3 separate regions of the Homo sapiens genome follow, and all the other regions are linked to region 1. Evidence: fine-mapped expression QTL. Tissue or cell type: whole blood. Region 1 holds a variant in brackets; each other region holds the start of a gene. All regions are shown on one strand. Distances are between the middles of the regions.

Region 1 (2,683 bases):
GTGGAAGGGTGGGGATGTCAGTCTGGGAGGGAGCCCAGGGGATTGGGTGTCAGAGTTAGGACACCAGGTGCCAAGTGCCTAGCCAGCCAGGACTGGCTATAATTAGCCCCATGGGGCCACTGGCTGACTGGGATGCCATGTGGGCAAGTTCCCTCTGCCACGCAGCCCCAAGCACAGCGGGCGCTTAAGTGAGAGGGCAAGCGGAACGCTGGTGTCTCCTGAGGGTGACTAAAAGGATGGGGGCAATAGGGGAGGGGTGTGGTCCCGGTTACCGGATCTTTACAGGGCTTCTTGCATGTTTCACTGCACCGCGTGCACCCTATAGCTGTCCTGTATATCCCAGATACTCCAGTGCTGGGATGTGGCTGAGGGTAGGAGGAGGGTGTTGGAGCAGGGGAGAGACTGACATTTCAACTGGCTGGAGACATGGTTGCTCTGGCCTCTTTGGGCCCAGCTCTGACGCCAGGCTGTCTTGCCTCTGCTCACCTGCAGCTATCCAGCAAACCTCGGCATGAGCGTCTCGGACACCCCACATTATCCCCCTGAGCTGGAGAGTGTCTCTCATCCCGTCCAGAGGGACTGCCTTGGACTCCTTGTGCACGCCCAGAGAACCCCTTCCTGGCCTCCCTCCCCCGACGAGGATCCCAGATTGCCTTCCTTTCCTCTGGAGGAGCCTGGTTCCAGGCCCCTGGTCCCAAGGAACCTTCCCTTTCCAGCCTTGTCCCTAGAGGAAGAAGAGGAAGAGGAAGAAGATGAAGATGCGGCAGAGCCCGAGTGGCTGCGCAGCGAGGAGCATCCGAGCCAGTTTTTCGCCGAGGCCCAGCGGCTGCGGGAGCAGAGACTGTTGCTGGACGAAGAGGTGTCAGTCGCGGGGCGGGTATACGGGGTGCATCGGGTGATCCTGGCCGCAATCAGCAGCCTCTTCCGAGACAGGCTGCTGGGCGGCGGAGGTCCGCGGCCCCCCTTCAGCCTCGAGGTGTCCCCAGGGGGCTGGGAGGCCGTGCTGACCTTTGCCTATGAGGGGGTGCTGGGCCCCGCCTCGCAGGGGGATGTGCTGGCCGCAGCAGAGGCGCTGGGAGCGCCCCGGGTGAAGGCTGCTGCCCAGCAGACATGCGAGAGGGCTGGAAATGCCAGGGAAGATGTAAAGAAGCCCAGCCAGGCAGAGGAGCTGAGGGAGAACCTGCGCGGAATCGAGCTCCTCTACCGAGAGGGCGTCGGGTGTGACTTGAAGCTGGAGGCAGGCGGCTGCCAGCTGTCGGGTGAGGGCCTGTGGGGCATTAAATTACTGCAGGTGCATATGCTAACGGAATGGTGTGTGCAAGCAGCAGGTGGTTTTATCCCCACCATGATGGTTTTGATCCCTGCTGCTGTCAGAATTTCCCTGGGGTGGCCTTTGGTGCCTCTCCTGCCCCACGGAGAGCCGGGCATGCGCAGTCGAGTTGTTTTCTAGGCGCTCTGACAGATTTAAACTGACCCTCTGTCTGGCTTTTCCTGTGTCCAGTAACAAGGAATCTCCAGCC[A/G]GCTGGCTAGAGCTAAGGGTACAATCCATGGCAGTAGAACAAGCAGAAAGTGGATTGACTCAAGCAGAAATTAACAAAAGGCCCTTCTTGGCATCCTCCATTCAGGACACAGGAAAGCCAGGGGAACATGGTGGAAAACTCAATGTGTGCTTTCACCTTGGTGTGCTTGACGCCATGGCTGACTTATGGGCCCTGCAGCTAATGAGCAAGGTCTGGTACTGTTTAAGGTTACCAGGCCGTGGCACTTTTTTTTTTTTTTTCTGAGACAGCATCTCACTCTGTTGCCCAGGCTGGAGTGCAGTGGCACAATCTTGGCTCACTGCAACCTGCACCTCCTGGGTTCAAGTGATTGTCCTGCCTCAGCCTCCCGAGTAGCTGGGATTACAGGCACCTGCCACCATGCCTGGCTAATTTTTTTGGTATTTTTTTAGTAGAGATGGGGTTTCACCAGGTTGGCCAGGCTTGTCTTGAACTCTTAACCTCAGGTGATCCACCTGTCTCATGCTGGGATTACAGGCATGAGTCACTGCACCCGGCCTGGCCATGGCACTTTGAAGTTAACTCTGCTCATCACCAGGAAAGCTAAGTAGGGTTGCATAAGTTGAGTATTATTCGGAGTCTACTAACATTTAGTGAGGCACTGGGTACCTGAAATTTTTACACATGACATCTCTTTTTAAATTTTACTGAAAGCTGGTGAGGTCAATATCATTATCTACAGGTGCACATAAGGAACATTAAATTTGGAGATGTTGACTTGGGACAACCCCAGGATACAAGCCTACATCACTAGTCCAGTCTCCTTCCACTAGGCCATGTGGACACATTGAAAGTTTAAAATTACAAGGGATTAGTTTAGAGATTATCTAGTTGGGCTGTTACACTTTGATGATGACGAAATCAGAATCCAAGACTTGTCCAAAGTCACATAGCTACTGCCCATTAGAGGAGTGACTGGGAACTGAAGTGCTTCTGGGACTCCTAGAAGGAAAACCACTCCAAAAGTCTATTTTCATTTATGATAGCACTAGATGGAGAGGGGATTTAAATTTTTCATAATCATAAAATTCTCACTAGGCTTTTGAATTTAAGCATACTCATATCACTGCTTTTATTTCCCTAGGAAATATTCCTACTTAATGGTTGCGAATCTGTCACTTAAA
Region 2 (2,683 bases), 92 kb after region 1:
TACAGGCGTGCACCACCATGCCCAGTTAATTTTTGTATTTTTAGTAGAGACAGGGTTTCACCATGTTGGCCAGGCTGGTCTCGAACTCGTGACCTCAAGTGATCTGCCCTCCTCGGCCTCCCAAGGGATTACAGGCGTGAGCCACCTCACCCCGCCGGTTTAAGATAATTTTCTAAGTTTACAGAGGCAATAACAACTGTCCCACACTACTTTTGTGTAACAGTCTGTGTAATTCTTCCTAAATTGCTATTCTAGCCAAATGAAATAAAACAAAATAAAAGGGAGTCCCAGGAGTCTTGTAAGCTCATAGATTGAGGCCTGCTTATCTGTTTTACTTGTGTCCCAATGTCCCCCAAATACCCACCTCATACATGAGGCCGTATGGGATAAAGGTTAGTTAAGTGCTCAAGGGTCTGTGCCTAATTTAGAGCCTAGCTCTGCTGCTTTTCTCTGTGGAAACTTGGAGAAGTATTTGATCTCTTCCTACTTCACTTACTCCAATATTAGAATATTGTACAATACTGTACTTCTAGAGAAGTACAATAGAACCTAATTTATAGGGTGCACCTATGCATTTAAGAACATTATACACATAATACCGTATCTCAATAGGTCTAAGACTCGCATTTTACTCTCTGGAACTGGGATGCATCTTACAATGGATGACATAAGCAGTGAATCACAGTTCACCATTTTCAGTGCTTATCCTTTGTTGTGTATAAAATAATGGTGTGCCTTACAATTACTTTTTGTAAATTGGATGACATTAGGTATTAACAACAGTACTGGCACATTAGTTGTTACAGCTCCGCAAGGCTTTATGCACAATTATGTAATCCCCAAAGCTCTGAAAACCGAAATTTACAAAATTTAGCACCCCAACTGGTTTGGTAGCCAAGTGCAGGTTATAGGGAGCTGGAAGGGGAAGGGGGTCACAGTAGGTGGCATCGTTCCTTTCTGACTGCCCGCCCCCCGCATGCCGTCCCGCGATATTGAGCTCCGAACCTCTCGCCCTGCCGCCGCCGGTGCTCCGTCGCCGCCGCGCCGCCATGGAATTCGAACGCTGACGTCATCAACCCGCTCCAAGGAATCGCGGGCCCAGTGTCACTAGGCGGGAACACCCAGCGCGCGTGCGCCCTGGCAGGAAGATGGCTGTGAGGGACAGGGGAGTGGCGCCCTGCAATATTTGCATGTCGCTATGTGTTCTGGGAAATCACCATAAACGTGAAATGTCTTTGGATTTGGGAATCTTATAAGTTCTGTATGAGACCACTTTTTCCCATAGGGCGGAGGGAAGCTCATCAGTGGGGCCACGAGCTGAGTGCGTCCTGTCACTCCACTCCCATGTCCCTTGGGAAGGTCTGAGACTAGGGCCAGAGGCGGCCCTAACAGGGCTCTCCCTGAGCTTCGGGGAGGTGAGTTCCCAGAGAACGGGGCTCCGCGCGAGGTCAGACTGGGCAGGAGATGCCGTGGACCCCGCCCTTCGGGGAGGGGCCCGGCGGATGCCTCCTTTGCCGGAGCTTGGAACAGACTCACGGCCAGCGAAGTGAGTTCAATGGCTGAGGTGAGGTACCCCGCAGGGGACCTCATAACCCAATTCAGACTACTCTCCTCCGCCCATTTTTGGAAAAAAAAAAAAAAAAAAAAAACAAAACGAAACCGGGCCGGGCGCGGTGGTTCACGCCTATAATCCCAGCACTTTGGGAGGCCGAGGCGGGCGGATCACAAGGTCAGGAGGTCGAGACCATCCAGGCTAACACGGTGAAACCCCCCCCCATCTCTACTAAAAAAAAAAAATACAAAAAATTAGCCATTAGCCGGGCGTGGTGGCGGGCGCCTATAATCCCAGCTACTTGGGAGGCTGAAGCAGAATGGCGTGAACCCGGGAGGCGGAGCTTGCAGTGAGCCGAGATCGCGCCACTGCATTCCAGCCTGGGCGACAGAGCGAGTCTCAAAAAAAAAAAAACCGAGTGGAATGTGAAAAGCTCCGTGAAACTGCAGAAACCCTTTGGGAACAGAGGGAACCATGGGGCAGGAAGCCCACGAAAATTCTAATTGGTCTTCTGGTTCTTGGTGACATCAGGTGAGGGGCGCCCAAATGTTTGGCTTCATGAGAATCACCGAGTATGGGGACTGCATACTTAAGCAAATTCCCCACCCCAGACCCTCCGATTCAATAAGCCTGTATTAACAAAATCACTGGGTAATCCTGGTTTTGGCACTAATATCATTTAGAAACATATTGTTAGGATAGCATAGTATCTGTTATAGAGCAACCTGAGCAAAATAGCGAAACCTCGTCTCTATTACAAAAAAAAAAAAAAAAAAAGTGAAAAATTAGCCAGGCGTGGTCGCGGGCGCCTGTAATCCCAGCTACTTGGGAGGCTGAGGCACGAGAGTCGCTTGAACCCGGGAGGCGGAGGTTGCAGTGAGCCGAGATCCCGCCACTGAACTCCAGCCTGGGTGACAGAGTGAGACTCCGTCTGAAAAAAACAAAGAAAAAAAAATTGATACATTTTAATTTTTGTTCATCAAAAGATGTAAAGTTTAGAAAGAAAAAACCCAAAATCTCATTATTTGCATGTAATTTGATTATGAATATTTTAAAAGCTAGAAGAAACTACAGGATAAAAATTTTACCTTAATACAAAGCCTAGCAAGACTGATAGAAAATAGCGTGTGA
Region 3 (2,683 bases), 22 kb after region 1:
GGGTGGCTTAAACAACAAATATTATTTCTCACAGTTCTAGAGAATGGAAGTCCAAGATCAGATTGCCAGCATGGTCTGCCTCTGAAGATGAGGGTCTTCCTTGGGATTGCAGATGGCTGTTTTCTTGTATCCTCATATCGTGGAAAAAGAGCTAGCTAGCTCTTCCGTCTCTCCTTATGAGGCCACCAATCCCATTTATGAGTATTCTAAACTCCATGACCTAATGACCTCCCAGAGATCCCACCCTAAATACCATCGCATTGGGATTAGGGTTTCAATATATAAATTTTGGGGAGACACAAACATAAAGACCATTGCAGGGAGTGTTGGGACTGGTGGCAATAGAGGTTTCTAAGGAAGGAAAGGGGTACTGGCTCAGTTAATAGAGGACAGAATGCCCTCAATTCTGAGCGGAAGCTCAGCTGTTACCTGAGACTCAAGGGTACCTCTCTAAGGAAAGCAATGATATTTTCCAGAAGACAGCTAATCTGCTTTATATAAAGGCAGAAAGCATATTTCTCCTGCTACTATGTTTGGTCCTCTCTTTATGAAGCTAGGATTATTAACCTAAGGGTCACTTGTCTCTTTCCTAAGCCTGGTTCCATCTTCCTGGAAAGGGTTCAGCATTAATCATTCAGGATGGCTCCAGATAGATTCTGTGTGATCCACGGATCTCTCTTCTGATCAACAGGAGGGGAGGCACTTGCTCTCAGTTCAGCGAACTTTGATTGACTGATGTCTACACTTGGTTACAGGCGGTTGCTTTCCGCTTTCCGTCTCCTTTTAAGGAGTTCCTCAAAGGAACTTTAGGATGAATTGAGTCTGACCGTCTTTGATATTAGGAAGGAGAGGTGTACAGCTAGGCAGCGAGCATGCTAAAATCTTTTCCAGGAAACGGTGTTTGAAGAGTTAATGGGAGAAAAAAAGACGAAAATTAGCCAGAGGAGACGAATTTGGTAGAGGGGGAAGCCCTAGGGACAGGAGAAAATAGGACCAGAAAGGGAAAAAAAATAGAAACAATAACAAACTAAACTCGGGCCCCAGAAAAGGCGGCAGGGGTCCTGGGCATTCGCGTCGCAGCCCTGGCATGTCGTCTTGCCCGGCCCTCGGCTCGCTGCCCTTCCAGCAGCTGCTGCGCCCCGCCCGGGCCCGAGAGTCTCCGCCCGCACCGTCTCTTCTCAGATCCGCATCCGGCTCCTCCCCCGGCTGCCACCCTTCCCACCGGCAGAATCCAGAGCGAAGTTTCTGCTTCCTGCTGCGGGAATCGGACGCCCCAGGTCAGGCACCCAGGGTTTCCAGCCCCAGTCTAAGGTAGGGTCCGAGCGCAGGCAGAACTTGCCCTGGCCCTGGGTCTAGGGCGCTGGGCTCTGAGGCTGAGAGCTGGGTGGGAAGTGCCTGGCGGGGCCGGTTAGGAACCACCCGAGACTCAGCTAGGGGTGCATCCACCCTGCTCCTCCCGGCGGCTCCGGGAAGGGGAGGGAGTGTATACTGCGTGAAAGGGGAGGTGAGAAAGGAGGAGGAGAAGGCTGAAGGAGAGGGAGGGACAGGAAGAGAGACCACGTAAGAATCATCCCCTCTTACTTCCTTGCCCTGTGTGCCCATCGAAAGGGGACAGTGGCTGTCACCAACAAATGGTAGTATGAGAACCGTTTGTGATAATAGAAACCCAGACTGTGCTTAAATGTGCTAGACTACCATACAGCCACTTGAAGAGTGAGGTGGAGGCCGGGCGCGGTGGTTCACGCCTGTAATCCCAGCACTTTGGGAGGCGGAGGTTGGGGATCACCTGAGGTCAGGAGTTTGAGACCAGCCTGACCAACATGGTGAAAACCCTCTCTACTGAAAATACAAAAAAATTAGCCGGGCATGGTGGTGGGCGCCTGTAATCCCAGTTACTCGGAAGGCTAAGGCAGGAGAATCGCTTGAACTCGGCAGGCAGAGATTGCAGTGAGCTGAACAACAGAGCCAGACTCCGCCTCAAAAAAAAAAAAAAAAAAAAAAGGAAAGAGTGAGGTGGGTATTAATGTGTTAACAGGGCAAGGTCTCTGAGATATACTAAGTGCAGAATAGCATCTAACTTATGATCCTGTTTGTGTAAAGCAAAAGCAAAAGCAGTGGTGATGGTGAAGGCATGTATTTGCATATGCATAGAAACTGTGAAACTGTTAGTATAAAACTGTGAGCAATGTTTACTTCCAGAGAAGGGAACTAGAGATGGAAGTGGGGACGGAACTTTAACTTTCCATTTGTGGTTCAGCCGAATCTCCTTTCAAAAACTCCAGGGTGCAAAACAATAAAATGAGCAAAATAGTGAGACTGTCCTTTTAAGGATAGGACAGTCTCACTATGTTGCTCAAATAAACTGTCCTTATTTTTCTGTTTATTTTTGGCTTGAGATCTCTTTTAAAAAAAATCTGAGTCAATTCTGAGTTTCCCCACTCCTTTCCTTGGGGGCTTATATAGGGCAACGACATGAGCAAAGTGTATTGGGCACAGAAGCCATCATTTTTTACGTGTTTGTCACACTGACGTCCAGTGAGATATTGTTGTCCTTTTTGGCCCTGGATTGTTAGTCATTCAGGTCTTCTTGGAAGTGTTCTGTACTTTTGTCCCTAAGCTTTTTCACACTAAGTTTAGGTGGTTGACTTAACAATATTATTCCCAAAATATTTACATATGAATG

Evidence for each region. PIP is the estimated chance that this variant, and not a neighbour inherited with it, causes the effect.
Region 2: it holds the start of PARP2, and the variant in region 1 is fine-mapped to the expression of PARP2 in whole blood (TOPMed, PIP 0.91).
Region 3: it holds the start of TEP1, and the variant in region 1 is fine-mapped to the expression of TEP1 in whole blood (TOPMed, PIP above 0.99).

What each region holds. Positions count from the first base shown.
Region 1 is chr14:20,433,640-20,436,322 of GRCh38, reverse strand. KLHL33 (kelch like family member 33) reads left to right here and starts at 157. Exons shown (of 5, transcript NM_001365790.2): 1 at 157-224; 2 at 493-1,259. The coding sequence starts at 512. RefSeq lists an enhancer at 1-610. The variant A/G (reference allele first, on the strand shown) is at 1,521.
Region 2 is chr14:20,342,010-20,344,692 of GRCh38, reverse strand. PARP2 (poly(ADP-ribose) polymerase 2) reads right to left here and starts at 1,058. Exons shown (of 16, transcript NM_001042618.2): 1 at 1,006-1,058. The coding sequence starts at 1,051. It also overlaps RPPH1. RefSeq lists enhancers at 976-1,145, 2,076-2,175.
Region 3 is chr14:20,411,999-20,414,681 of GRCh38, reverse strand. TEP1 (telomerase associated protein 1) reads left to right here and starts at 1,181. Exons shown (of 55, transcript NM_007110.5): 1 at 1,181-1,277. RefSeq lists enhancers at 978-1,027, 1,528-1,597, 2,148-2,317, 1,427-2,343.